Homo sapiens: one gene and its partners. The protein of the gene in region 3 purifies or fractionates together with the protein of the main gene of each other region. This does not show direct contact. Each region holds a gene or a part of one and is shown on either strand. Other genes may lie near its edges. The genes, in order: RPS6KA2, RAP1GDS1, IRGC and TMT1B.

The links.
Region 1: the proteins of IRGC (region 3) and RPS6KA2 purify together in Homo sapiens (affinity purification with mass spectrometry; 2 studies listed by BioGRID and IntAct, with this or other methods). This does not show direct contact.
Region 2: the proteins of IRGC (region 3) and RAP1GDS1 purify together in Homo sapiens (affinity purification with mass spectrometry; 2 studies listed by BioGRID and IntAct, with this or other methods). This does not show direct contact.
Region 4: the proteins of IRGC (region 3) and TMT1B purify together in Homo sapiens (affinity purification with mass spectrometry; 2 studies listed by BioGRID and IntAct, with this or other methods). This does not show direct contact.

Annotation. Positions count from the first base shown.
Region 1 is NC_000006.12:166,624,252-166,631,931, forward strand, and holds the start of RPS6KA2 (ribosomal protein S6 kinase alpha-2), read right to left. Parts: upstream 3,001-7,680; 5' UTR 2,769-3,000; coding exon 2,670-2,768; intron 1-2,669. UniProt on the Homo sapiens protein: Serine/threonine-protein kinase that acts downstream of ERK (MAPK1/ERK2 and MAPK3/ERK1) signaling and mediates mitogenic and stress-induced activation of transcription factors, regulates translation, and mediates cellular proliferation, survival, and differentiation.
Region 2 is NC_000004.12:98,264,375-98,271,395, forward strand, and holds part of RAP1GDS1 (rap1 GTPase-GDP dissociation stimulator 1), read left to right. Parts: intron 1-7,021. UniProt on the Homo sapiens protein: Acts as a GEF (guanine nucleotide exchange factor) for the Rho family of small GTP-binding proteins (G proteins) that stimulates the dissociation of GDP to enable subsequent binding of GTP.
Region 3 is NC_000019.10:43,711,616-43,719,080, reverse strand, and holds the start of IRGC (interferon-inducible GTPase 5), read right to left. Parts: upstream 3,006-7,465; 5' UTR 2,939-3,005; intron 2,205-2,938; exon of another isoform or gene 2,132-2,204; intron 702-2,131; exon of another isoform or gene 634-701; coding exon of another isoform or gene 523-633; coding exon 1-522. UniProt on the Homo sapiens protein: Required for sperm motility and therefore male fertility, via positive regulation of spermatozoa fibrous sheath formation.
Region 4 is NC_000012.12:55,677,423-55,684,745, reverse strand, and holds TMT1B (thiol S-methyltransferase TMT1B precursor), read right to left. Parts: upstream 3,011-7,323; 5' UTR 2,992-3,010; coding exon 2,494-2,991; intron 934-2,493; coding exon 697-933; 3' UTR 135-696; downstream 1-134. UniProt on the Homo sapiens protein: Thiol S-methyltransferase that catalyzes the transfer of a methyl group from S-adenosyl-L-methionine to alkyl and phenolic thiol-containing acceptor substrates.

The DNA of each region.
Region 1 (7,680 bases), on a different chromosome or scaffold from region 3:
TCTTTGTATATTTCAAAATATAAATTTCACAGAAACAATTTTAAAATGTTTCCTATTATAAAACAAGTTATCTTTCTCATTCATCCACACAGAGGAAATACACATCTGTGTTCAGTACTTTGTGTCCTATTTCTCAACCTCAATCCATTGACAGACCTCCCCTGCTCAGTTTTACATTTTTTGATGAGTGCTTCTTGGCCTATAACCAGCTGTGAACACACAAACGAACAGGCAGCCTTCTCAAGTATGGGTAGGGCGCAGAAGAGGAACTTACTGGACTGGGGCACAAAGTCAGCTGCTTGTGAGACTCATCACTGGGTGGAAGTGCCCTGAGGCCAGGACTTCTATGTCTCGTGTCTTTTTGGACACAGTATCCAGAAAAAGACCAGCCCAAGACCCGGTCCTCCATAAACACTTGCAGAATGAATTCCTTGGAAAGCTTTTAACAAGACTCTCAAACTCTCAGGGTTTCTTCCCCTTAGCAATAGAATGAGGAAAGTTACATATGCTACCCCGATTTTCACAAGTATCAAATAATAGAAAGCTGGGGAATGCATTTGTAAAAAAGAGAGCATTGTATTAGCATTGACCTTTTTTTTTTTGAGACAAGTCTCGCTCTCTCGCCAGGCTGGAGTGCAGTGGCGCAATCTCGGCTCACTGCAACCTCTGACTCCCTGGTTCAAGCGATTCTCCTGCCTCAGCCTCCTGAGCAGCTGGGATTACAGGCACGCGCCACCATGCCCAGCTAATTTTTGTATATTTAGTAGAGATGGGGTTTCTCCATGTTGGCCAGAATGGTCTCGATCTCCTGACCTCATAATCCGCCCGCCTTAGGCTCCCAAAGGGCTGGCATTACAGGCATGAGCCACTGCGCCCGGCCATTATTGACCATCTTAGTGAGACCTCCAGCACCTAGTACGGGATCTGGCACACAGGAAGCACTAATTGACTACTTGCTCTTAGACTACATGTATTTTCAGCCCATTTGACCTCCTACATCGCTGATGGTTTATGTATGACTTCTAGAAATTTTATTTCTACATGGAAGAAACCTCGTTTCCTATTCCCACCACCCCCCCACCCCCCCCCCCGCTTGTTTCCCACTGTATTCTTTCCGGAGGCACGCCTGCAGCCCAGCCCTCCTTGCAGAACCCTGTGACACCAGAGGCGTGTGTATCCAGAATCAGGCAGATTCCTGAACTCCCACTGGTCAGCCAGTGTCTAGTGCTGCTCTTCATAAACAATGCCTGGAGTGTGCTCACACGTGTACCTCTTCTTGGCAAAGACAGTAAATGGAAGGAGACAAGGAGTTGTCTAATAAACTTGGCATTGAGATGAAACAGGAAACAAAGACATGTATCCGGATAAAGATAAATACTGTTCTGAGTTTCTGATCTTGTCAACTTCAGATTTTTTAAGTGCCTGTGTCCCAGGAAAATGATTTGCCTCACTGGTGTGCTTCATTTCTTTCAATATTAGACTTAAAAGCAAGCCCTCCTCCAGTACTGGATTAACAGTTTTGTTTGAAAGATGTGTTTTACCCTCGGGAACCGGCCATACTGATCCTATCTAGTACTTCCAATTCTGATTTAGGGATGCCATAAGAGAAACTTTTTAAACAAGTAATTCTCTTCTACTTTTTTGTCTATTCCTCAGGTCTCTCAATGGTTACAGAACCCATGTCTGTGTCTAATATCATGGCAGCTGGGACAAAGAAAACCAAGATGAAACATTTGAGATTGTTCCAGCTGAAACAAACCAACCAAAACCCCACAGGTGCCAGCCTTGAGGCAAAGGCGGGACAGTGTCAGGCGAAATCTTTGGGTCCCAGCCTCAGTCTCCCCATCACCATGTCTTTTTCACTTAAACACGTTTCACTGTTTTGTCATCTATAGATTCAACAATGTGATTTGGACACTGGGAATAAGAGAATAAGATTTGATGGTTGAAATAAAACACACCACGAGAGAACCGTCCACAAGGAAACTCTAAGATGCCAAGATGCGGGACAGGTAGAAAGGACAGGGCTTTGGGAGTACTCTGGGTTTTCAGGACGAATCTGTATCAGCCTCGGCGCTGCGAGGATATTGCATCAGGCTCTTTACTCCTGAACGCCGTTTTAGACGCCTAAGCAGATTGTGCTGCTGCCTGTTCTTCCCCGTTCTGTGAATTCTACACTGACTTCAAGTGCACGAATGAGCTACAAGATAAGGTGGAACCTGCCGGCCGGGCACGGCAGACAGCACCTGATCAGCGCCTCGGAGGGCGGAGCTGGGGGGCTTCTCCACTCGGGACTTTGAGGGACCCCCGCGGAGCGCTCCGCGCCACTCGGCGGTCTAGCTGCAGAGAAAGCCCCTCCTCACCCGGGGCTCCCTGTGGCCCACAGGGGACCATCCCACACCCCGTGCAGCCAGCGGCGGAGAAACCAGCTGGAAATGCAGTGGGGGTGGAGTTGCCCCCGCGAGGACCCACGGACCGCCCAATTACTACGGAGTCCCAGCGATAACGTTTGGAGCCGTTTGGTTCGATTTTCGGAACCGGACCAGCTTTCCAGTAACTTGAACTCCCTGACGGGTCTCGGGGTCCACCCAGGGGTGGCGAGGCGGGCTCGGGCGACCACGGCCCGCTCAGTGCCCGGCACCTGCGCGCCCCGAGGGCGGCCGCATTACCTCGAGCCGGCTCAGGCTGGAGCTCTTGGAGCGCGACTTCCTGCGCAGGTACACAGAGAAGAACCTGCGCACGGCGAACTTCTTCATGCTCAGGTCCATCGCCCCGCGCCCAGCCCGGAGCAGCCGCAGGGCCGGGGGACGCGCATCCCCGGCATCCCAGGCGCGGGGCTCAGGTCCGCGGGCGGGCACGCGTGGCCAGGGAGCCCGGCACGGCGGCCATGGGCGCGGGGCGTGGGGCGCGAGCTGCGGTCACAAAGGGCAGGCCGCGCCGGCCACCGCGGCCGGGGCCACAATCGCTCCCTCCGCCTCCTTCTCCGCCTCCCCTGCGAGTACCAGCGCCGGCCACGCGCCACGCCTACACCACGCCCACCACCACTACCACCAATCAGCGCCCGCCGCTCCGCGCCCCGGCACGCACACCTCCTCCTCCTCCGCCCCGCCCCGCCACTACGGCCAATCAGCGCTCACCACCCCTCCCGTTCCCACCCACCACCAGCACTGCCAATGAGAGCCCACCGCCCCGCCCGGGAGAGCCCCGCCTCTGCCGATACCTCCAATCATCAGCGCCGCCCTGTGGTTCCAGGTGCCCATCCCTCCTCCTCTTTCTACTCCTTCCTACAAGAACCAGCTCCGTGCAGCCCCGCCCCCACGCGGTTCCGCCCACGGCCCCGCCCACAGCACTGCCCGCCAATCAGTGCCCGCAGCCGCCGCATACCTAATGAGCCTCGGCCCGGGACAGCTCCCGGCCCGGGCGAGTTGTGCAGCTGCTCCGGAGCCGCGCAGTCGCGGGCGTTCCTGTCACGCAACTTCGGCCCGGCTGCTCTTTCTTCCAGCTTGGGGCCGTCATTATGTTTTCCTTCCTTAAAACATCCCTATGCACACTTTGTCATCATGTTTTTCTCTGCCGAACCAAACTTTAATTGTTGATCAGCAAACGCAGCCAAAACCTCAGCGGCACAGCGAGCGAGGGACCGCCGCCTGCCAGCGGGCCCTGCAGCTCGGCCAGGAGCCGCCCTCCGCGGAACCGGCGCCTTCCCTCCGCCGGAGCGGACAAAGGCGCCCGAGGGCGGGGGCTCAGGCAGCCCTCGGGGCGCCTCCCTCCCGCGGCTGCAGAACAAAGACGCATCCGCCCTCCGCAGCCGGTCCCGCTCTAGGAAACGTCTACACAGATGGCTTATCAGGGCCCGCGCTGGGAATACCCGGGCGGGGTGACCTGGGTCTAGGGCAAGGCCCTCAGACCCGCTGCTGGCGGCAGCGCCGCTCGGGATCCGCCTTAAAGGGAAACACTTTTTTCTTTTTTTTCCTAGAAATGCTCACCAAGGGCTGCAGCAGGGCCGAGAATGCGGGCTCACGACCCCGTGCAGCCTGCTCTGTTTTCCTCTTGTGCACGTGTTGAGTTTGTATTTAAAAACAGGGAGAAACCGAGCCCATTGACATAGCACCATCACCACCTGCAAAGAGCAGAAACGAGTGCGGTGGTGAGTTGACAAGTCTTGCTTGCTCTTTTGCAGTGCGAACTGCAAAATCCTCGCGTTGTTTTGCTCCCTGGACTAGTCAGATGTTGCGTTAATACTTGTGTAGTCTATTTTGGCTAAGGTGGGTAGAGAGGTCAGAATGTCCTTAAATAAGAGCTTTAAAGTCATGCTGCATCCGGGCTGAGGTGAGGTCAGATAGGCTCTCTGGGTTTCCTGGAGACCCGCGTTGAGCGGTGCTGCTCCGGAGTGGAAGCCGGGAGTTTAGCACCACGACTCTGGCGCTGCCCCTTCCTTGCTTGGTGAACTTGGGTGCCGTTGCACGTTGTTCCCACGACTCATCTCTAAGAGGAAAATACGAGTGAAACCTGTCTCACCTCCCTTACTGGATACCAAGAGGCTTATGCAAGATCACGGATGTGGGAGTGCTTTGTGAATTTAAATAGTGCAATTGATTTTCATATTATGTATTAAAGGATCTATAATGACTATTCTTTAAAAACAGAAGTGCAGGACCCCACAAGGACACCAAACACCACTTTTTGCTCCTTTTCAAGATGGTGTGCCAGTTAAGTGCCCATGAAAACTGCTTTGCCTGCTTCCTTTAAGGTTCTGCTGGGAGGGTAGTAATCTGTGCTCTCAGAACCAGCCTCTTAGTGCCCTGTATCCCTGCTGGGACCCTCAGGCATCCTGGCTCTAGGCAAACACAAAGACACTCTGTACCCAGCACGGGAAGAGGTAGATGGACCTCCAACTGGACACAGACTCCGGGAATGAGGGAGGACCAACCCGACCATGCTTCCCTCGGAAGGGGAGCCAGTAATACTGGCCGGAGACAGGAGTGCTGAATGCCACCTATACCAACTCATGGGCATCCTGTTCAGGACAAAAGCCCCAAGGCAGGCAGGCCTAAGTCAAGGCTTGTGTTGTACCAACAATAGTATTTTGACCTGATCTGACAAAATTGGAAAGGAAATATTTCATGGGACATTCATTAGTTCCCCAAATTTGAAGGCAACAAAACTGTTCTGTTGAACTTGGGAGGGAAAATCATTCAGATTTCACTGGAATTCATTGCTAGAACAATAAATCTGTTTGCCTTTGTTTTTCTCCTGGTAAAATACACGTATACCAAAATCTCTAGTGATCATGGAACACTACTTCATGTGATTATGTAATGAAATCCTCCAAAACCACTAAATCTAGGGTAGGTATAATATCAAGACCCACTGTAACCGAAATCCAAATTATCCTTACCAAATACCAGAAAAGAAAGTGAACTTGATAAAGGCTCTTGCCCAGATGATGGAATGGGAGAGGACTGAAGAGAAGATAAAGAGCTTGGTAGACCTCTGAGTATCTCACATTTCCTCTGACTCAAGCACAGTAAGTTTGAGACTGAATTCCGTGGTGACTGCTGCTTCTATGAGTACCAGATTAGCTGATGTGTGGTCAATGCAATTCCACAAGTGATTATCGAGCACTAACATCTGGCACTGTGGTGGTCATTTGTGACACAAAATGATTACAACATCCCAAGAAGTTCACAGTCTTATGGAAGAGAAGGTGAGTGAACAGACAAAGCTCATGCCGTTTTTATGTAAAGTGAAAGAAATGCGTAAGAGATGAATGAGAAGCCAATTCTAATTGGCGAAGTCAAGGAGGAGATGGCCTTTGCTCTGAACCCCTGAGGGTAAGAAGATGAGGGAATAAGTTTCCTGGACAGACAAGAGGAGGCGGGAGTCCCAGGCTGAGGAATAACAGGGCACTGTCAGGCAGCTGTGACAAGGTTTCCCATCTCTCCCTGCTACACAGGCACCTTGTGGGTAAGGCTGGTGTGCTCTCTGCATATGGGAAGATGCCACATTCTCGGGGCACCCCACAGGAGTGGCTTGAGTGACATCCAAGAGCTTCTAATTAGTCAAGTACCACAAATGTCTGTTCGTCTCCAAACAGTCCTACAGGCTGCTGAAAGTTTCAAGCTTCTAAAACTCCCACATATTTTCAATAAAACGCTAAATTGCACTTCAAGTGAAACTATATATCTTTAAAATAAATTGAAACATTCGGTCTTCATTAGGACTAAAGTTTTGCCATGGGAGGTGAATTCACTAGGTTCACCTGATGCAAAACTTCACCAGGATCACCAGGGTCACCTGGTGCTGGCCATCTGCGAAAGCAGGAAGTCGTGCTTTTCCGGAGTATCAGCATTCGAAGGCTCTGCCCATCACAGGCATCCTGCTGGATGCTCCAGAGACAGTGTCCAGCCAGTACGAGGGAGGGAGGTGGGCTTCAGTGTGTGCCCCTGTGAACTACTTCCTGTGGCTGTGATACAAATGGGTTTAGTCAAGCTTCCCTTAGTGTAGTCCCTGAGTGTACAGAAAGGAATCCTTTTCCTGGGCTGTGGATCCCCGTGTACTTGAAATGTTTATGACTTTGAAGTTTCTTGAATGTAGGAATTAGTCCTTGCTCAGGAAGATGGTCTTAAAGTCCTGAGACCCTAGAAGGTAAACTGTAGTGGACAGTTCAGGTGGGGGCACGTTCGGAGCAGGTGTCAGCAAGGGGCCTGGAGCTGTCAGGGAAGGGCTTCTTGGGCCCTCGGCAAAAGTCAGAAGGGATCAAGTTTGCCTCTGGTCTCTGGCTGGCCCCTGGCCCTCACCCACAGGACACTTGGGTCTCATTCACATCTGGGTGCCAACCAAGCCATGTCAGAATGACACCTGTGCCCTCAGTTTAACAGTTTAAAATCTCTGAGCATATCGAAAATTTAAAAAGAAAGTCTTAATGCGTAAAAGTCTTCAAAATGACAGAAATAAAGCTCTAATGGTGAAGTACCAGGAAATGGAATTTACATTTGAAACCAGAGGGCCTGGTTTCTGAGTAGTCAGGAGAGGCAGGTGGAAACCCACAGGCCAGTTGTACTTGACCCTTATTGACTGGCTTACATTTAGGAAGAAAAACCACATTGGGTTTCAAGCTGTGGAAACCATCATGGTTGGCTTCCTCCCTCCCCGCTGGAGCCCTCATCCCCCATCCAACCTGGGTAGGAAGGCACAGGGCTCACAGAAGGTGGGCTTCACCTGCAACACCTCCCCCGCCAGCCCGCTGTGAGGACAGCTTTGGATTTTATTGGTTTTTAAATACTATGTTCCTTCATACCACTTTCTTTTGAAACCCATTTATAAACCATAGGGCCAGAATCTACAGAGAGGCTGATCAAATAACTTTCCTGGTAACACAGATTTTTTTTCGTCCCTCTGCCTGGGGCACTCTGGTGCCTTCCATGGTGTCAGCGGAGCACGGCTGGAGTCATGACTCCCAAACAGCGAGAAGGGAGGGCCCTGCCTCAGTGAGCCCTTTTTCTCTTTGAGACAGTGGAACCCAAGAGATAGATGCGAACACACAGAGCAGTCATAGACACAGCGGAGCAGAGACAGACCAGAGAGAGGCTGCGCGGCAAACGGAGCCCAGACAGGTGGCACCTCAGGGCAGCACCAGTATCAGCTAAGGTGTAAATGCCTCGAAAAGACCTAAATCAA
Region 2 (7,021 bases), on a different chromosome or scaffold from region 3:
AACAAGAGGGAAACTCTGTCTCAAAAAAAATATATATATATATTCTCATGGCAATAATTTCCTACACAAGAGAGTGAAAGAAAAGTCCTATATAACTTTATGGCCATAGCTACTATTTTATGTATATGTCATATTTCAGATTCAACATACATTTAGTGTTTGTTGGATATCAACTGTGCAGTGTACTGTACTACAGTGTACTGGGAGGACAAAGATAAAAAGATATTCATGTTTCACATTTATAATCTTAGCAGGAACAATATGACACATACACAAATTATAATAGAAGTAAAAGTATAAGTTATATAAAAGACCTTTACATATATTATAGATTCAGAGAATGGAGAGAACGTTTTAGAGAAATGGTGTTATTTGAACCAAAGGTGGGTTAAACTTCTTAAAGGTAGAAATGAGACTGTTAATCAGAATGGAGTTGGTCTGGGGTTGGAAGAGAAATGACATAAATGAAGATAGATAGGAAACATTTTATGAATTTCCAGGATATGATTAAACAGCATTGTTTGGCTAGAGCAAAAGGTAAGGAAATAGTGGGTAACAGACATGAAAAAGTAGTACAGTAATAGCTAATGACCAGATAATGTAGGATCTAAAATGCCAAGCTGAAGAATTTTAATCTGACTTACCTATTGAGAGACCACTAAACATTTTTATGTAGTTAAGTGATGGATCACATCTGTGGTATAGGAAAATTTGTCAGTTGAGTGCAGGATCGATTAGATGAGAAACTACAGAACACTTCAGAAGATTGTTGTTGGAGTTTGGACGAAAATGTTTAATGGCTTGAACCAGGTTATGGCAACGGGAATAGAATATTGCAAATAAAGAATAGGATTTACTTGGCAACCCATTGAGTATGGAATTGAGAGTCACAGGTTTTAGCCTGGGTGATAATGAGGATACGAGAATCTCCTGATACATATTCAGTTAACAGGAAGAGGAAACTTAGATACTCAATTTTGGACCTATTGCATTAGACTTTTTGGTCTGTCCTTTAGTCTCTGCTCCTTGATAACAAGGACGTTGTCATATTAGGATTTGAATACATTTCTAACACTAGTGTCTGGCACATAGTAGCTACATAGAAAAATTGTGTTGACTGACTGAAACTAGATAAAAAATAGTTGACAAACATTTATTTTAACTTTCGAGAGTACAATTTGAATTAGAGATCTGGAAGTTATCCACAAATATCCTGAGGTGATATTTGAAGTTAGATCAGAGGACAAGAGTCAACAAAGAAAAAGAGGAAAATTGTTCATGGTAAGAATCTTGAGGAATGGGGTTCCTTAAGTTTTCCGTAGTTAGGGAAAAAGGAATGGTATGATTTCACACTGAAAAACACAGAAGTCAGAGTGAAAGACTAGAATTGGTATATGGTTGGTTTTAAGAAAGAGTGAATAGTTAATAAGGTCTGTTTTTTCAGAACAGTCAGGAGGGTGATAGGGACTGAGAACAGGCTCTAAGTGCTTTGGTTAGGATATTACCCAGTATATTTTTCTAAAAAGCCACTTTAAGAGGTTTAGTAGATATGGAGGTCAGTTGTAAAGGCTAAGTGAATAATAAGTGGAAACAGTTCACTAGGTATAGTCATGCTGTATTTCTCACCTTGTTTAAAGATCTGTGAGAAAACATAGATTTTTAAAAATATTTTTAACTCACTCTGCATGACAGATATTACATTTTAGAAAATATTTTAAAATTTTAAATGTATTTTAATTTACAAATTAAAAAAATTATTTTAATGTTACATTTTACATGGAAGGACATGTGCTGTTTTCATGTCTAAGGATAATTTTTAATTTCACCATAGTGCCTCACATTTCTCTGACATTTCATTTTTAATGTCTTTGTGACTTAGTATAGTACAATTTTTATTTTTATAATGTCTGTCATGCAGAGTGAGTCTAGAATGATTTTATAATTTTGCATGGCATTTTGCCTAAACAATACTCTTTACTGATGAATGGTTTTATCACTTTTACTCTTAGACTTTGTGAATTTGAGACTTCTTTAGATTATAGGTATGCTTCTAATTATATTTTTAATTCCTGGAGTTGTAGTTTTCTCTGTAGATAGGTATCAAACTTATAGTCATTTTATTTTGCCTGTATTTCCAAGTCCAGGAATGGTTTTCATAGCTAAATAATAAATACTAATTTTGCCTGATCTTTGCAAGTCTAGGCAGGGTGATAAAATATTTTTGAAAGCTGGTAATTACTAAAATTTATGATTTCAAAAAAGCATAGATGCTAGCTTGGTAAATTTAAAAATTTTTCTTATGTTGGCATTATATCTGTTTTGTATATGTCTTTTTTCATATGGGAGAAAGGTTGAATTCACTATCCTTGGTAGTCATATTCTGAAGTCTGTACTACTACTATTTGAAAAATTATAATAGCCTTAACTCTTTTTAAGAACCAAAATGATTTTGCTTTCATAGTGGAATCTTGGAATTTCTAGGTGACTTTGGGGAAATAGTGTGGATGCTCTCCAGAAATTCCTGATTGAACCTGAGATTGAACATAGCAATTCTGGAGTTATTGGTGGCACTAACAACAGCCATCAGAATTACCTAAATTTTAATATCCAGTCATGAACATCAGGAGGAATGAAGGAGGAAGATTCAGTCCTTTGGGAACCTGATGTAATTTTAGATAGCCAAATGTTTGGATAACTGATAAGGAAAAAGTTTAATTTAAAATACATGTTGATGTTGAGTTCAGTTTGCCAGTATTTTGTTGAGGATTTTTCTATTTATGTTTATTAAGGATATTAGCTTGTAGTTTCTTTTCTTGTAGTATCATTGTCTGGCTTTGGTATCAGGGTAATGCTGGCCTCATTAAATGAGTTTGGAAGTATTTCCCTTCATTGTTTGGAAAGAGTTTGAGGAGGATTGGTATTAGTTCCTTTTTTAAAATAATTTCAACTTTTAGTTTAGGTTCAGAGGGTACATGTGCATGTTTTTTACATGGGCATGTTATGTGACACTTTGGAGTATGAATAATCCCATCACCCAGGGGTTTGGAGTATGAATAATCCCATCACCCAGGTAGTGTGCATGGTACCCAGTGGGTAGTTTTTCAGCCCTTGCCTCCCTCCATTTGTCCCCCTCTAGTAGTCCCCAGTATCTGTTGTTCCCATCTTTATGTCCATATGTACACCCAGTGCTTAGCTTCCGCTTATAAATGAGAACATGTGGTATTTGGATTTCTTGTTTCTATGTTAATTTGCTTAGGATAGTGGCCTCCAGCTCCATCCATGTTGCTGCAAAGGACATGATTTCATTCTTTTTTGTGGGTGCATAGTATTCCATGGTATATATGTGTCACATTTTCTTTATCCAATCCACTATTGATAGGCACCTGGGTTGTTTTCATGTCTTTGTTATTGTGAATAGTGCTGCGATGAAGATCCAAGAGCATGTGCCTTTTTGGTAGCATGATTTATTTTTCTCTGGAAATATACCCAGTAATGGGATGGCTGGGTCAAATGGTAGTTCTGTTTTAAGTTCGTCGAGAAGTCTCCAAATTGCGTTCCACAGTGTCTGAACTAATTTATATTTCCACTAACAGTGTAAAAACATTCTCTTTTCTCCACAGCCTTACAGCATCTGTTTTTTGTTTGTTTGTTTTTACTTTTTAATAATAGCCATTCTGACTGGTGTGAAATGGTGTCTCATTGTGGTTTGATTTGCAGTCTCATCACATTAAGAGGATCATACGTCATGATCAAGTGGGATTTATCCCTGGGATGCAAGAATGGTTGAACATACACAAATCAATAAATGTGATACACCACGTTAACAGAATGAAGAACAAAAATCATACGATCATCTCAGTTGATGCAGAAAAAGCATTTGACAAAATTCAACATACTTTCATTTTTAAAACTCTCAACAAATTTGGTGTAGAATGAATATGCCTAAACATAGTAAAGGTCCTATATGACAAGCCCATAGCTAACATCATACTTAATGGTGAAAATCTGAAAAGTTTATCTCAGATTGAGAAAAAAAACAAGGATGCCCACTCTTGCCACTGCTATTTAAGATAGTACTAGAAGTCCTAGCAGAGCAAATAGACAAGAAAAAGAAATTAAAAAGCATTCAAATTGGAGAGTAAAATGATCTGTTTAAAGATAGCATGGTCTTATACATAGAAAGCCTTAAAGACTCCTTGAAAAAAAAGACAAAAACTATTAGTCCTAATAAATGAATTCAGTAAAGTTTCAGGATACAAAATCAGCATAGAAAAATCAGAAGCATTTCTATACACTAACAGCAAACTTTCTGAGGATGTAATCAAGAAAACAATCCTATTTACAGTAGCTGCAAAAATATAAAATATTTAGGAATAGATTTAACCAAGAAGGTGAAAGATCTCTATGCTGAAAACTGTAAGACATTGATGAAAGAATTTGAAAAATTAACAGATATCCCATATTCATAAATTGGAAGAATTAATATTGTTACAATGTTCATAGTACTGAAAGTGATCTACAGATTCAATGTAATCCCTATCAAAATTCCAGTGAAACTTTTCACAGAAATAGCAAAACAATTCTAAAATTTGTATGGAACCACAAAAGATCTGAATAGCCAGAATAATCTTGAGCAAGAAGAACAAGGCCAGGGGCATCACACTACATGCTTCAAGTCATGTTACAAAGCTGTAGTGATCAAAACAGTATGGTACTGGCATAAAAGCAGACACATAGATCAATGGAACAGAATAGAGAGGCCAGAAATAAACCCAAGAATTTACAGTCAATTGATCTTCAAAAAAAAAAAAAAAAAAAAAAGCCAAGGAAACACAATGGGGACAGGACAATCTCTTCAATAAACACTGTTGTTAAAACTAGATACCCACATACTGAAGAATGACATTGGATCCTTATTCATCCCATATACAAAAATCAGCTCAAAATGGGTCAGAGATTTAAACAAAAGATTTGAATTTGAAAAGCATAAGATGCGCGCAAGAAAATACTGGAGAGAAGCTCCATAAGATTGGTGTTGGCAATGATTTTTTGTTTATGGCACCAAAAGCACAGGCAACAAAAGCAAAAATAAACAAATGGGACTTCATCAAATTAATAAGTTTCTCTGTAGCAAAGGAAACAACAAAATGAAAAGGCAGCTTACATAATGAGGGGAAATATTTGCAAGCCGTATATCCGATTAGGGGTTAACACGTAAAAATAATCAGGAACTCATACAACTCAGTAGCTAAAATAAAATAAAAATACAGGTTGAGGATCCCTAATTCAAAATCTGAAATGCTTCAAAATCTGAAACTTTTTGAATGCTGACATGACACTCAAAGGAAATGCACATTGCAGCATTTGGATTTTTGGTTTCAGATTTTTGGATTAGGGATGTTAAACCAGTTAGTATCATGCATGTATTCCAAAATCTGAATAATTTCAAAATCTGAAACACTTCTGGTCTAAAGCATTTTGCATAAGGGATACTCAATCTGTATTTACCTAGATGTAAATAATAAATGAATATATTAGAATAGGTTATTGTCTCAGTCCATTTTGTGCTGCTATGACAGAATACTGCAGACTGGGTAATATATAAAGAACAGAAATTTATTCTATCAGAGTTCTGGAGTCTGGTAACTACAAGATCAAAGTGCCTGCAGGTTTGGTCTTTGGTTTCAAGATGAGGCCTAGTTGCTGTGTCCTCCAAAGAGGAGAAACCTTGTGCCCTCACACAACAGAAAAGCAAAAGAGAAAATCCACTCTGGTAAGCTCTTTTTATAATGCCATTAATCTATTTATGAGGGCAGAGCCATCATAACCTAAACACCTCCCATTACCTTCCAGTACTGTTGTGTTTAAGTTTCAACATGAGTTTTGGAGGGGACAAAAACATTCAAACCATATAGTTATAAAGACTATTTCAGTTATAAAAGCCTGTGATTCCTTGAAACTGAAGTTTGAAATATACTCCATATCATTGGTATCTTAAATATAACCTCTATATAACTTGTTTTTCTTTAGTGTTCAAATGGTAATGTATACTTGAGGTAGCAACTTAAGGGTTTGAACCAACTTTAGCTTTGTCTGAATAAATGACCTAAAAAAACATTTCTCAAGCTGGCTAAGATATGGATGCTGGATTCAAATTGCAGGTGAAATAATTCTCTCAGTGCTTCTATTTATATAGCTTTTGTAACTAGAAGCATTTCAGGAGTTAAAACCAAGGACTAGGTTAGTGATAAATGGAAGTGGTTAAATTGAGCTCTTAGCTATGATTGGCTGTACAGTTGACCGTTGAATAACATGGATTTGAACAGCGCAGTTCCACTTCCATGTGGATTTTTTTTTTTCAATAAAAGCTATACCAAGTGAGTTGCCTCTCCTGCCTCCCCTTTTACCTCCTCCACCTCTGCCACACCTGAGACAGCTAGATGAACCCCTCCTCTTCTCAGCCTACTCAAGAGTGACTATAATAAGGATGAAGACCTTTATGATGACCCACTTCCCATGTAATGAACAGTAAATACATTTTCTCTTCCTTCCATTTTCTTTTCTCTAGCTTACCTTATTGTAACAATATGGTATTTGATGCATATGGTATATGATGCATATAACATACATAATATGTGTTAATTGACTGTTTATGTTATTGGTAAGGCTTCTGGTCAGCATTAGGCTATTAAGGTTTTAGGGAGTTAAAAGTTATGTGTGGATTTTTGACTGAGTGAGAGGGGGATTGGTACCCCTAGTGCCTGCATTGTTCAAGGGTCAACAGTACTTGTTAATTCCAAAGTCCTTTTTGTTCACAAAATGACTTTAGGTACTTATTGGTACTGAAATATATTTATTAATATCTGGGCTACATCTTTGTATTTAGCAGATTAGTAGACATCTCTACTAATTAAACTCATTGAGTTCAAAATAAAACTCATTTTATAATTTTTAATAATGATAATTAGAGGGGTGCTGGTAAATGTTTAACTAAACGCCTTTCTCCAAAATAGCCCTGATT
Region 3 (7,465 bases):
CAGGTCCTCGTCCACCTTGGTGCGCACAAAGTAGAACTTCTTGCCCTGGCACAGGATCTCAGCGGCCAGGCGGGTCTCGACGGCCCCGCAGCGGCGGGGGGAGACCAGCAGGAAGAAGTCATAGCGGCTGAAGTCTACCTGCTTTAGGTACTTGTCAGCCGGGCAGCCTGGAGAGCCGGCTCCTGGCAGGTCCCAGAGGGTCACGTCAGGGAACTGTGGGTGTGGATAGGGCGACGGTTGCATCGTGGTCTCCATGACGCCCGTGAGAGCCGCGCCAGGGTCCTCGGCCTCCAGGCCACGCAGGGCATTGATGAGGGAGGACTTGCCCGCGCCCGACTCGCCCGTGACGCCCACCTCCAGGCGGATGCTTTCCGTGGAGGCCAGCAGCTCCTGGAGGTGAGAGGCGGCCTGGGGGAGGTCACCCGACTCAAAGGCTGTGCGCAGGGCCTCCAGCCTTTCCTTGGCCATAAGGATGGTGTTTTCCTCCTCCCCAGGCACCACGGGCAACTTTGAAGTAGCCATGGTGGCCAGTGGTTCAGAGGGTGGCGGGGGACAGGGGAGAGTCACAGGATGCGTGATCCTCAGCGCCTGCAGAGGAGAAGGGAGCCATTCACACCTCCTGGGCCTTGGCATGGGGCAGGGAGAGACAGATACCACGGATGTGAAGGGAGTCGCCCTGGAAGCCCACAGCTCTCTTTTTCCTTCAAGAATTGGGGACACATTTTTGGCACAAGTTAGAGGGCTTTGGGGTCTGGCAGGCCCAGGTTCACATCCCTTTTCTGCCACTAACTTGCTGTGTGACCAGGGGCAAAATGAAGCACCTCTCTGGGTAATGGGCATGACCACCAAGCAGCCTCTTGGAGCACTATTGGAGTCTCCAGGGTAACCTAGGCACAGGTCAGTTTTCTGGGTGTATGTGTGCCCTGGAGGGTTCTGTGCTTAGAATGGCCCAGTGCTTGGTTTAATGCTCTGCTGACACTAGCTGAAATTGTTTGTTTGTTTGTTTGTTTGTTTGAGACAGGGTCTCTCTGTCATCGAGGCTGGAGCACAGTGCTACGATCATGGCTCATTGCAGCCTTGATCTCCTTGGCTCTAGCAATCCTCCCACCTCAGCCTCCTGAACAGCTGGGACCACAGGCGCATGCCACCATGCCCAGCTACTTTTTAAATTTTTTGTAGAGATGGGAGTCTCACTATGTTGTCCCAGCTGGTCTTGAACTTCCGAGATCAAGGTCCTCCTGCCTCAGCTTCCCAGAGCGCTGGGATTAAGGGCATGAGCCACTATGCCTGGCCTGAAATTCTTTATAATATTTGAACCAGGGGCCCCATATTTTCATTTCGTACTGGGCCTTGCAAATTATATAGCCAGGGCAAATTACATAGCCAGGGCTGCATAGGAAAGGGTGGTACAGGCCCATTCAGAGGAAACAGCTGCACTCCTGCGGTGGCTGGGATTGGAGGGTAGGGTGGAGGGGACCCAGACCCGGAGCCAGACTGCCTGGGATCAAATCCTGGCTCCACCACATACTTACTGAGTGATGTGAGGCAAGTTACTTAACTCTCTCCTCACTCTCCTCATCTGAACACTGAGAATGATACCTACAATCCTGGCAAACCACCTCCTAGGATCTCTGTGACTTGAATGAGTTATGACATAAAGCAGCCCATAAAACGGCGCCTGGCTCAGGGCAGGTGCCTCGTGTCATTGGCATCACCATCATCGTCATTATTCTTATCATTAGTAATATTCTTAGCTGTGTGACTTTGAGCAAGTCCTCGCCCTGTCTGAGCCTCAGCTGCCCCGTGGGGGATACTCCTCCCCACCTCGCAGGGCTGCTGTGATGCCCACAAACCCCGTTCAGCTAGCCCTAGGCTGACTTTGGGTTCAGACGCCCTTGGGTTCGGGAAGCCAGACATGGGGACCACCTGGACACCAGGAGTCATTTCCATGAAACCCCACCCCTGCCATGGCAGCCCTTGCCTCCCGGGGTTCAGTTCCCCTCCCACCGCCCAGAGCTCCTGTCGTGATGGTCCCCCCTCAGATCCCTCCTCCTCACCAGGAGCTTCCCTGGTCCTCCCTCTTCCCACTCACCCTCCTCTGGCCCATCATCTCTAAAATACATTTACTCACTAAGGGTCTTCAGGGTGCCCTGGGAGAGCTGCTCATGTCTGGGATCACTGTCCCCATTTGACAGGGAGAAGGACTGAGGCTCAGACAAGACAAATGAGGTCTCCTCATCCAGAGGCATAGCCAGGACCCCAACCCAGGTCCCCAGGCTCCTTCACCCACCTAGAGAGCTACTCTCCCTTCAGCTGCATGTCCCTGCCTCCTGCATTGTCTCCTTGCCCCCTGCACCCCGTCTCTTCACCTCCTACCACTCACCCCATCCTCTGCTACCCCACTCCACCCCCCACAGAAATATGTCCTTAAGACATTGTTCCCGGCTGGGCATGGTGGCTCACGCCTGTAATCCTAGCACTTTGGGAGGCCGAGGTGGGTGGATCACTTGAGGTCAGGAGTTCGAGACCAGCCTGGCCAACATGGTGAAACTCCATCTCCACTAAAAATACAAAAATTAGCCAGGTGTTGTGGCGCATGCCTGTAGTCCCAGCTCTTGAACCCAGGAGGCGGAGGTTGCAGTGAGCCAAGATTGCACCACTGCACTCCAGCCTGGGCGACAGAGCGAGACTCCGTCTCAGAAAAAAAAAAAGGAAAAAAAAAAGACATTGTTGCCTCCAGATCTGAGCCTCCTATCCTGGGTGTGCCCTCTCCCTAGTATGGTCTGCGGTGGGAAGAGTAGGAACCTGGAACAGGTCCTGGCAGCAAGGGGCAGACAAGTCAGTGGTTGGAATTTGGGCTGAGGGGGTCCGGATTAGACCATAAGCTCCTGCTCCGCCCACGCACAGGGGCCCAGCGAGAGAGCCCTGGGGGACTCACCTGCCCTGCAGGCTCTCCCTCTCCCCTCACACTCTCCCCACTGATAGGATCTCCTTCCCTCTTAGCCAAGGTCAGACACCGTTGCTAGGACCCATTATCATAGCAAGCAGCAGCTTATTGGTCAGCCAGACCTGGTGCAATAATGCGACAGTGATGTCAGGGGGTGGGGCCCGGAGGTGGAGCAGGGACCCCAAGCCCCAGCTGCTCATGGGGTCACCACCCACTCACACTGGGCCCTCCAGTTCCCCTGAAGACTCCAGAGAGATCTTTCTAACACCAAGACCTGTTCAAAATCCTCCATGGTCTCCATCACCCCCCAAGGACAAAGTCTCAGATTCACAGATTGGTTTCCAAGGGCTTGGCCCTGCTACCACTCCACCCTCCACCCAGGGGACTGTCAGTTCCCCAGAGAAGTGTGAAAGTTGATGATACAAATTCGGTCATTGCTGGTGGGCACAGTGGCTCACGCCTGTAATGCCAGCACTTTGGGAGGCCGAGGCGAGTGCATCACTTGAGGCCAGGAGTTTGAGATCAGCCTGGGCAATGTGGTGAAACTCCATCTCTACTAAAAATACAAAAATTAGCCAGATGTGGTGCATGCATGTAGTCCCAGCTACTCGGGAGGCTGATCTGCTATCTTGTAAGCCCAATAATTTAGTCATTGATTTCTTTTTTTTCTTTTTTTGAAACAGTGTCTTGCTCTGTCACCCAGGCTGGAGTGCAGTGACACAATCTTGGCTCACTGCAACCTCCGCCTCCTGGGTTCAAGTGATTCTCCTGCTTCAGCCTCCTGAGTAGCTGGGACTACTAGCATGCACCACCAGGCTTGGCTAATTTTTTTTTTTTTTTTTTTTTTTTAGTAGAGGTGGGGTTTCACCATGTTGCCTAGGCTGGTCTTGAACTCCTGACCTCAGGTTATCCGCCTGCCTCGCCTCCCAAACCTCCTGACCTCAGGTTATGCCGCCTCCCAAAGCGCTAAGATTACAGGTGTAGCCACTACACCCGGCCCCTTCTTGTCCTTTATAAGTGTCTCTGTCCTGTCTCCCCTCCGGGCTTCCTCTCTGCCCAGGCCAGGCTCCACAGGGCCTTCTCCATTCTCCTCTTGTAGGGAATTTACAATAACGCTACTCAGAGGATTTTCCTGACCATCTGCAGGCCAGTTCTGGAAAGGAGCCTCTGAGAACAACTAAGGAGAGAGAGGCCCAGAAGGGGAATAGACTAGCTCAGAGCCACCCTGAGAGCTGGGGAAGAGTGGGCTGTTGGCCGCATAGTACAGAGTTCTTAAGCCACAGGTGAAAGGGAGGTGCAGGGCAAAAGACACACGACTCACTCATGCTCTCACTGACTGACACAAACACACAGAGCTGAAGAGAGTGAACAACATGGTTCTCAGACTTCCCCGGACACCGAGCACACAGACCAGCAGACAGCAAGGACTCCTTCCCAAAATGCATGGACACGCACCCCTGGCCCAAGAGAGAAGGGAAAGACACAGAAAGAGCCTCAAATACAGAGTTACTTCGTGGCTGGGCATGGCGGCTCACTCACGCCTGTAATCTCAGCAATTTGGGAGGCCGAGGTAGGAGGTTTGCTTGAGCCCAGGAGGTTGAGACCAGCCTGGGCAACATAGCAAGACCCTATCTCTTTTTTTTTTTTTTTTTTTTGAGACGGAGTCTCGCTCTGTCTCCCACGCTGGAGTGCAGTGGTGCAATCTCGGCTCACTGCAAGCTCCGCCTCCCGGGTTCCTGCCATTCTCCTGCCTCAGCCTCCCGAGTAGCTGGGACTACAGGCGCCTGCCACCGCGCCTGGCTAAATTTTTTTGTATTTTTTAGTAGAGACGGGGTTTCACCGTGTTAGCCAGGATGGTCTCGATCTCCTGACCTCGTGATCCGCCCACCTCGGACTCCCAAAGTGCTGGGATTACAGGCGTGAGCCACCGTGCCTGGCCAAGACCCTATCTCTTAAAAAAAAAAAAAAAATGAGCCAGGTATGATGGTGCACATCTGTAGTCCCAGCTACTCAGGAGGCTGAGGTGGGAGGATTGCTTGAGCCCAGGAGTTCAAGGCTGCAGTGAGCCGTGATCATGCTACTGCACTCCAGCCTGGGTGACTGAGCAAGATTCTGTCTCTAAACGAAACAAAACAACAGAGTCACTGAAGGAAAGCAAGACTCAGACAAACACACACTTACCAAAGCCTCGCAAACACACACATTCCGGGACACAGATGTGCAGACTTTAAGAGACACAGTTACACACTGACAACATATACAGAAACCCCGAAACCCACTGACTCCATTCAGGAACCTCATTCATTCTGCTGCAGCAGCTAGGGCTCCAGAGATGCATCAAACCCAGGCACTGCTTCAGGGGCTCCAGGCCCGAGAAAATGGAGATTATTGCAGCCCAGGATGATTGTGGACCAAGAAAGAGAGCCACTGCCACCTGCACACATGCACCGATGCAGACTGGCATGTTCCCAGGGATGCCCCTAGCAGCTCCTGAGAGCACCAGCCAGAGAGAGAGGGGTTGCACCCTGCCTATCTGCATGCTGGAAACGCAGCAATGGACAAGACAGCCAGGCTCTGCCCCCACAGGACTCAGAGTCCAGTGGTGGAGTCAGATCCATCCCAAGATAATGATGACAGAGGGGGCAGCACTGGGATGGGGGACCCCAGAGGGCTGTGGGAGCACAAAGGAGGAAGCCCGACTCAGCCTGGGAGTCAGGGAGGGCTTCCTGGAGGAGGGGGCACCTGACCTGAGATCCAAAGGATGAGTAGGAGTGAGCCAGATGGCACATTAGGGAGTTGCATCCCAGGCTAAGGGACCAGCCTCTGCAAAGAACCTGAGTTGAGAGAGAACTTTCATTCGTTCAATAATAAACTCAATTTCAGGCACACCTCATTTTATTGCATGCAGCTTTATTGTCCTTCACAGATACTATGTGGTATTTTTTGCGGGGGGGCGGGGATGTGGTGGAGAAGAGGGTCTTGTTCTGCCACCCAGGCTGGAGTGCAGTGGCGTGATCTCTGCTCACTGCAACCTCCACCTCCTGGGCTCAAGCAATCTCTACTACCTTTGCCTCCCAAGTAGCTGGGACCACAAGCACGCGCCACCATGCCCAACTCTTGTTTTATTTATTTATTTATTCATTTATTTATTGAGACGGAGTTTTGCTCTTGTTGCCCAGGCTGGAGTGCGTGGTATGATCTTGGCTCGCTGCAACCTCCACCTCCCAGGTTCAAGGGCTTCTCCTACCTCAGCCTCCCGAGTAGCTGGGACTACAGGCATGCGCCACCATGCCCGGCTTGTTTTGGTATTTTTAATAGAGATGGGGTATTGCTATCTTGGCCAGGCTGGTCTTGAACTCCTGGCCTCAAGTGATCTTCCCGCCTTGGCCTCCCAAAGTGCTGGGATTACAGGCATGAGCCACCCCGCCTGGCCTGATACTATGGTTTTTACAAATTGAAAGTTCGTGGCAACCCTGTGTCCAGCAAGCCCGTTGGTGCCATTTTTCCAACAGCACGTGCTCATTTCATGTCTCTGTGTCACATTTTGGAAATTCTCACAACATGTCAAACTTTTTCATCATCATTATCTCTGGTATGGTGATCTTTGATGTTAGCATTGTAATCATTTCGGGGCACCATAAACTGTGCCCACAGGTAACAACAAACTTAATTGATAAACATTGTATGTGTTCTGACTGCTCCACTGACTGGCCATTTTCCTGTCTCTCTCCTTCTCCTTGCACCTCCCTCTTCTGTGAGACACAACTATAATGAAATTAGGCCAATTAATGACTCTAAAATGGCCTCCAAGTATCCAAGTAAAAGGAAGAGTCACGTGTCTCTCACTTTAAATCAAAAGCTAGAAATGATTAAGCTCAGTGAAGAAGGCGTGTCCAAAGCTGAGATAGGGGCCAGGCATGGTGACTCACACCTGTAATCCCAGCACTTTGAGAGGCCGAGTTGGGAGGATCCCTTGAGGCCAAGAGTTTGAGACCAGCTTGGGCAATATCGTGAGACCCCATCTCTACAAAAAATGTTTAAAGTTAGCTGAGTGTGGTGACACTTGCCTGTAGTTCTGGCTACTTGGGAGGCTGATGAGGGAAAATTGTTTGATTCCAAGAGTTCAAGGTTACAGTGAGCAATGACTACAACACCGTACTCCAGCCTGGGCAACAGAGCCAGACCCTGTCTCAAAAAAACAAAAAGGCCGGGCATGATGACTCATGCCTGTAACCCAGCGCTTTGGGAGGCTGAGGCGGGTGGATCACTTGAGGTCAGGAATTTGAAACCAGCCTGGCCAAAATGACAAAATCTCGTCTCTACTAAAAATACAAAAATTAGCTGGGCGCGGCGATGTGCACCTGTAATTGCAGATACTTGGCAGGCTGAGGCAGAAGAACTGCTTGAACCTGGGAGGCGGATGTTGCAGTGAGCTGAGATCATGCCACTGTACTCCATCCTGAGTGACAGAGCAAGACTCCATCTCAAAAAACAAACAACAACAAAAAAAAGACTTCA
Region 4 (7,323 bases), on a different chromosome or scaffold from region 3:
GACCCCAAGGACCTGCCTCCCCGGAAGTGCCTTAACCTAGAGGGTCGGGGAGGAGGTTGTGTCACTGACTCAGGCTGCTCCTTCTCTAGTTTCCCCTCTCATCTGACCTTAGTTTGCTGCCATCAGTCTAGTGGTTTCGTGGTTTCGTCTATTTATTAAAAAATATTTGAGAACAAAACCTCTGCCTCTTTGAGTCTTGCTCTGGCATCCCCAGCATCTCTGATTCTCCCTGGTGCCCCCAGCTCAGGAAGAAGGTGGTAGTGGGGAGAGAGGGTCAGGGGGGCTTGGCAGGGATGCAGGCACCATGACTTTTGTGACCAGTTCCTAGAGACGCATGGGTGTAGCCTCAGGAGGAAAGCGAGAGGAGCTTTACCATGGGAACGAAGGAAAGGGACAACATTGGGAGGCAAACGTTGGGAGACTAGTCCAGAAACTTGCAGTTGAGGATACAACAGGGTCCTAGTGTTTCCTCCCTGGGTCAGCGTAGAAGTAGAGCTTTTTCACTGTCGAAGGCGGGATTGAAGTTAGAGATTGCCCTGGCAGAGGTTGGGGAGAGAGGGACTAGTAGGTGGTACATGAATGTCTTCTCTCATTCTGCTAGGTCCCTCTCAGTGGAAGATAGATAGGCTGGTGGGTGGCTTGTTCTAATTGGAGGCTGGGGAAGGAGCAAATGAGTGCCTTGGAGCTTGGGAAAGATTATTTGACAGCCTTTCCCATGATGTGGGGCCCAACAGGTAGCCACTTCAAGGGAGGGGGCTGTCGTTCCATTTGGATTTCGGAGAACTGGGCGTTCTCAAGATCCTTCCAGGTCTCTCTGGTGAGGCAGCAGCCATCCCCAATGTGTTTCCAGGTGGGCTCGAAAACTTGCTGCCACATGAAGGCCCAGCTTCCATATGGTTCTGCCACATGCTCCCAGAAAAAGAGCACACCTCCCTGGGAGGGATGAGAGAGTTAGTGTCACTTGGCTCCATTCTGACCCTGCTCCCTATCGCGCTGATCAAGACAGTCAAACTTCTTGGTGAAATGGGAGCTGCTGGTCTGAGAGTTCATGGAGCAAACTGTCGTGCCCCTGACCTTTTCTGCATCCCCTGCTACCGCCTTCAAAGTGCATGTGAAGAACCTCATAACTGAAAGGAGTGGCTGGTGGGAGATCTTTAAAGCCTGACCAGAATAACCGAGGGCATGCAGAAGGGGAAACTGAGAAACAGGAGTGGAGGGCTCATTGTATTATTATTATTATTATTATTTTTTGAGACAGAGTCTCAGTCTGTTGCTCAGGCTGGAGTGCAATGGCGTGATCTCGGCGCACTGCAACCTCCACCTCTCAGGTTCAAGCGATTCTCCTGCCTCAGCCTCCCAAGTAGCTGGGATTACAGGCATGAGCCACCACGCCCGGCTACTTTTTGTATTTTTCAGTAGAGACAGGGTTTCACCATGTTGGCCAGTCTGGTTTCAAACTCCTGGCCTCAAGAGATCCACCTGCCTTGCCTCCCAAAGTGCTGGATTACAGGCGTGAGCCACCTCGCCCAGCTGGGCTTATTGTATTCTGAGATACACGCACAACCTCTCTCACAAAACCCAGATGCATGCACAAGCTGCTTCCTGGACATCGCTGTGAACATCCCAGGGAAACCTCAGGCCCAACTCTTGACTGAAGCTGGGGTTCCTCAAGCTCCTCGCCTCACTATACTCTCCCTAGGTGATCTCAAACCTAGTAAGTCCAAAACAGCTTTCTTCCATCTCAGCAAATGGCACTTTTCATCAGCTCTCCCCTCAGTTGCTCATGCTAGAAACCTGGAAACTATTCTGAACGTTCTCTCCACAGTCTGATGGATTCTACTCTACTTCCCCTACTATCTTTACCTAGAACACTCTTTTATTTTCCCCACCCCGTCCACACTCTGCTTAATCCCTCAGATCTCTCTCTCTCTCTCTCTTTTTATTTATTTATTTATTTTTTTTGATACAGGGTCTCACTCTGTGGCCCAGGCTGGAGTGCAGTGGTGCGATCATAGTTCACTGTAACTTTGAACTCGGGCTCAAGTGATCCTCCCACCTCAGCTTCCTGAGTAGCTAGGACTATAGGCATGTGCCACCACGCCTGGCTAGCTTTTGTATTTTTTTTTTTTTTTTTTTTTGTAGAGACGGCATCTCACTATGTTGCCTTGGCTGGTCTTGAACTCCTGGGCTCAAGTCATCCTTCTGCTTCAGCCTCCCAAGCACAGATCTCGATTTAAACCTCAGTTCCTTAGGTGTCCTCCCCACTCCCCTCCCTGTCCCATGGTGGTAGGTGATCCTCCTGTTGCTTCCACAGCACCCAATTGTGCCCCGTCATGGCACTGGTCATGTCTCCTATTCACCAGCAGGTAGAGGTGGATGGGGTGTCTAATGTGCTACTTACTACCTCAGACGCCCCATTCTGGGGGCCGAACCCTGGGGCGGCTGATGCTGCGTTTGCCTGCCCCACACCCATCCCCTTCCCACCCTGCTTACCGGTCTCAGTACTCTCCGGACCTCCTGCAGGACCTTCCTTGGGCTCTGCACAGAGCACAGCACCAGAGTGCAGACCACCACATCCATGGAGCCATCAGCCAGCTGTCTCATGTCCTCTCCAGGAGCCACCACAAACCGCTCATATTGGAGGTGCCTGTTCTCAGCCATGCTCTTTGTCAGGAACTTCTCAAAGTGGGGATTTGGGTCTAGGCAGGTGACCCTGCAGCCCGGTGGGTAGAACTGAAAGTTGGCTCCGGTTCCGCAGCCCAGCTCCAGTAGGGCCACTTTCCCGGAGGCTCCTGTAAGCCCCTTTATCTGGCTGAAGAGCTCCCGTTTCTTGCTCTCCATCTTGCGGTTGCTCTTGGGAGTCAGCACGGCCATCAGGTAGGGGAAGTAGCTTTTGCACAGGGGCTGCCAGCAGCCCAGCAGAGCCATGAGGTGCAGGGGCAGGGTAAGAAGCAGCACCAGCAGCTGCAGGAGTGGGACCAGGATGTCCATGGCAGACCAGCTCTGAGCTGTGCTTCCGCTGGGGCACTGGCTTTTTCCCTGCTCAGCCTCTGCAGGCGCTGGCGTCCCCTCCCGCTGTGATAGGACTTTGCTCCTTGTCTCCTACTTGACAATTTCCTATTTGCCAGAGTTGAGTGGGTGTATGGAATTCCTCCAGAGGGCGCAGGTCCCACAGCCCCACAAGCTCTTCAATGACTTTTATGTGGGCGGAGGGACAGGTGGTACCCATGTTCCTGAGTTCTGGGGCACTGTGCCCAGCTGAAGGGGGGCAGGGGCTGCTGAGTCATCTCAGAGGGAGTGGGAAGGGGTAAGGGGATATGTTTCAGATGACAGACTCATGGCGGGGGAGTGTCGGGGGCTGGCAGGGCGTTGGGGGTGGGTTGGTAGTGGTGAATGCTGGGGACAGAGTTGACTCATGGGACATATCCTGGCCTCATTTCGTCCTCAGGTCAGGCACTTCAGAGGGGCCATAGGAAGGGAAGGGTGCTCTTGGCAGAGGAAAAAGTAGGTGTACAGGACAGAGACAGCATGCCCTCTCCTGGAAAGGGTGAGAAGTTTAGTTCTGTGGGGAATGGGGTAAGTTGGACAAATAGGGGGAAGTGAGGTCAGAGAATAGCCACTTTTTAGAGATCCTTCCCTCCCTCCCTCCCTTCCTCCCTTCTTTCCTTCTTTCCTTTTTTTGAGACAGGGTCTCTGCTGCCCAGGCTGGGGTGCAGTGGCAGCAGTCTGGGCTCACTGCAACCTCAATGTCCCTAGGCTCAAGTGATCCTCTTACACCAGCCTCCTGATTTTCTGGGACTACAAGTGCATACCACCATGCCCAGCAATTTTTTTTTTTCTGTAATTTGTAGAGACAGGGTTTCACCCTGTTGCCCAGGTTGGTCTTGAACTCCTGGGCTCAGGTGATCCACCCACCTCGACTTCCCAAAGTGCTGGGATTACAGTTGGGAGCCACTGCGCCTGGCTGAGAAGAATTCTTTTTACAAAACATTATTAAACAACTTTTTTTGGAAGAGGCAGTACATTCACTTAGTACAAAATTAAAAAGATACTAAAGAGATTACAGGGAAAATTCTCTCTTCTACTCCTGTGACCCAACCACTCAGATCTCCTCTCTGGAGGCACTAAATGCCATATTGCCAATTTCTTGTGAATCCTTCCAGAGATGACCTGTGAACGAGCAGGGAACACACACACCACGTGTTTAGATCCATGTACATATATACATATACATATTCCCTTTTCTTTTACAAATAGTAGTATATTGTACACACTCTTGTATACCTTGCTTCCCCCCCTTCTTAACAATGTATTGGATTTAGTAGATAATAGCAAATGGGTTTCCAAAGTGATTGTACCCATTTACACGTCCACCAGCAATATTTGGTTTTATGTGTCTTTTATGTGTTCATATTATTATTGATGCATAGATTCCTATTTTATTCACTGATTTGTAACCTAATACCCTATTTATTTATTTACAGTTTCTTTGAGGTATAATATATATAAGAAGGTTTACATATTTACAGTATATAGATTATTTTTGACACAGTATATACCTGGGAAACCATTACCACAGTCGAGATAATGAACATGTCTATGTGTTAGGCTTTTGCATTGCTGTTAAGAAATACCTAAGGCTGGTTGATTTATAAAGAAAAAAAGTTTAATTGGTTCATAGTTCTGCAGACTGCACAGGAAGCATGGCACCAGTATCTGCTTGGCCTCTGGTGAGGGTCTCAGGGAGCTTACAATCATGGTGGAAGACGAAGGGGAGCAGTGTATCACATGGCAAGAGAGGGAGCAAGAGAGACCTTGCGTGAACTGCCAGAGCGAGAACTCACTCATCACCAAGGGGTTGGCACTGAGCCACTGATGAGGGGTTGGGACCTCAGGAGCCAAACACATCCCACCAGGCCCCACCTCTGACATTGAGGATTACATTTCAACATGAGATTTGGAGGGGACAAACATCCAAACTATATCAGTTTCCTTGTGTTTCTTTGTAATCCATTCGCCCCTCTTTCATCCCCATCTTCAGGTAACCGCTGATCTGCTCTCTGTCAGTATAGATTAATTTCTCTTCTCTTCTCTTCTCAGGCAGAGTCTCACTCTGTGGCCCAGGCTGGAGTGCAGTTGTTTGATCTTGGCTCATTGCAACCTCCACCTCCCAGGTTCAAGTGATTCTCCTGCCTCAGCCTCCTGAGTAGCTGGGATTACAAGCATGCACCACCATGCCCGGCTAATTTTTGTATTTTTAGTAGAGACGGTGTTTCACCATATTGACCAGGCTGGTCTCAAACTCCTGACCTCGGGTGATCCGCCTACCTTGGCCTCCCAAATAGTTTGCATTTTCTGGAATTTTGTGTAAATGGAATCCTATAATGTATGGGATTTCAGCATCTGGCTTATTTCATTCAGCATGTTTATTTGGAGAGTCATCCATGTTGTACATGCATCCGCAGTTCATTTCCATTTCTGAGTAGTATTCCATTGTATGGATATACCACATATATTTTTATCCATTCACTTGTTGATAAACGTTTGGGTTGTTTCCAATTTCTGACTGTTAGAAATAAAGCTACTATGAACTGTTTGTGTACATGGGTTTGTGTGGACGTATGCTTTTATTTCTCTTGGGTGAATACCTGGGTGTGTATTTTGATGTTCAAATTGCCCTAGATTTGGCTGGGGGAGCACCTGCAAGCTGGCTCCTGTCTCCTTTTGACACAACTCCATCACTCTTTGAGCATTTTCTTACTTTCTGCTACAAGAAGATGTTCCAGGCTCATCTTGTATTTCCCCTGCTCCAGCCCCGAACTTAGTTATTTCTCAAAGAAGCACTGGTCTTTTGTGAGGAGGATGGTATTTAAAAACCAAGATCTGAATGCTGGATGTGATTATCACTGGGGAGTAATTGCTCCTGGGCCTGCTCCATGGACACAGAAAGAGGCAAAGTAGTATTATCCTGTGCTTTTTATTTGCTCTTTTCTTTTTCTTTTCCTTTTTTTTTTTTTTTTTTCCTGAGACAGAGTCTCACTCTGTCGCCCAGGCTGAAGTGCAGTGGCACTATCTCGGCTTGCTGCAACCTCCGACTCCCGGATTCAAGCGATTCTCCCTCCTCAGCCTCCCGAGTAGCTGGGATTACAGGCGCATGCCACCACACTTGGCTAATTTTTGTATTTTTAGTAGAGACAGGGTTTTACCATGTTGGCCAGGCTGGTCTCGAACTCCTGACCTCAGGTGATCCACCAGCCTCGGCCTCCCAAAGTGCTGGGATTACAGGTATGAGCTGCCGTGCCCGGCTTACTTACTCTTTTCTGCGTGAGGTTGAATTTTTGTTTCTTATAATTAAGAGCCTCTGTATTTCCTTTTCTAGAAATTTTCATTTTATTTTTTATTTTTGAGATAGCCTTGCTCTGTCACTCAGGCTGGAGTGTAGTGTGCGATCACAGCTCACTGCAGCCTCAACCTCTCAGGCTCAAGCAATCCTCCCACCTTAGCCTCCTGAGTAGTGGTCACCACAGGTATATGCCAACATGCCCAGCTAATTTTTCTTTTTTTTGAGACGGAGTCTTGCTCTGTCACCCAGGCTGGAGTGCAGTGGCATGATCTCTGCTCACTGCAAGCTCTGCCTCCCGGGTTCATGCCATTCTCCTGTCTCAGCCTCCCGAGTAGCTGGAACTACAGGCGCCCGCCACCACGCCCGGCTAATTTTTTTTTGTATTTTTAGTAGAGATGGGTTTTCACCGAGTTAGTGAGGATGGTCTCGATCTCCTGACCTCGTGATCCACCCTCCTCGGCCTCTGAAAGTGCTGGGATTGCAGGCGTGAGCCACCATGCCTGGCCAGACACACATATATATTTTTTTAAATTTTCTTTTTTTAATTACACTTTAAGTTCTAGGGTACATGTGCACAACGTGCAGGTTTGTTACATATGTATACATGTACCATGTTGGTGTGCTGCACCCATTAGCTGGTCATTTACATTAGGTATATCTCCTAATGCTATCCTTCCCCCCACCCCACCCCACGACAGGCCCCAATGTGTGGTGTTCCCCACCCTGCAGATACACAGATTTTCAATTGTGAGGGGTATCAGTCCCCTAGGTCCTGAGTTGTTCAAGGGTCAACTGTACAGCCATGTGCTGCATAACACATTTAGCTCAATGACAGAGCACATATATGATGGAGGTACCATAAGATTATTATGTAGCTGAAAAATCCCTGTCCTGTAGTGATGTCTTGATGATCCTGACCTTGTGTAGACCTAGGCTAATGTGTGTCTTTGTGTCTTAGCTTTTAACAAAAAAGTTAAAAA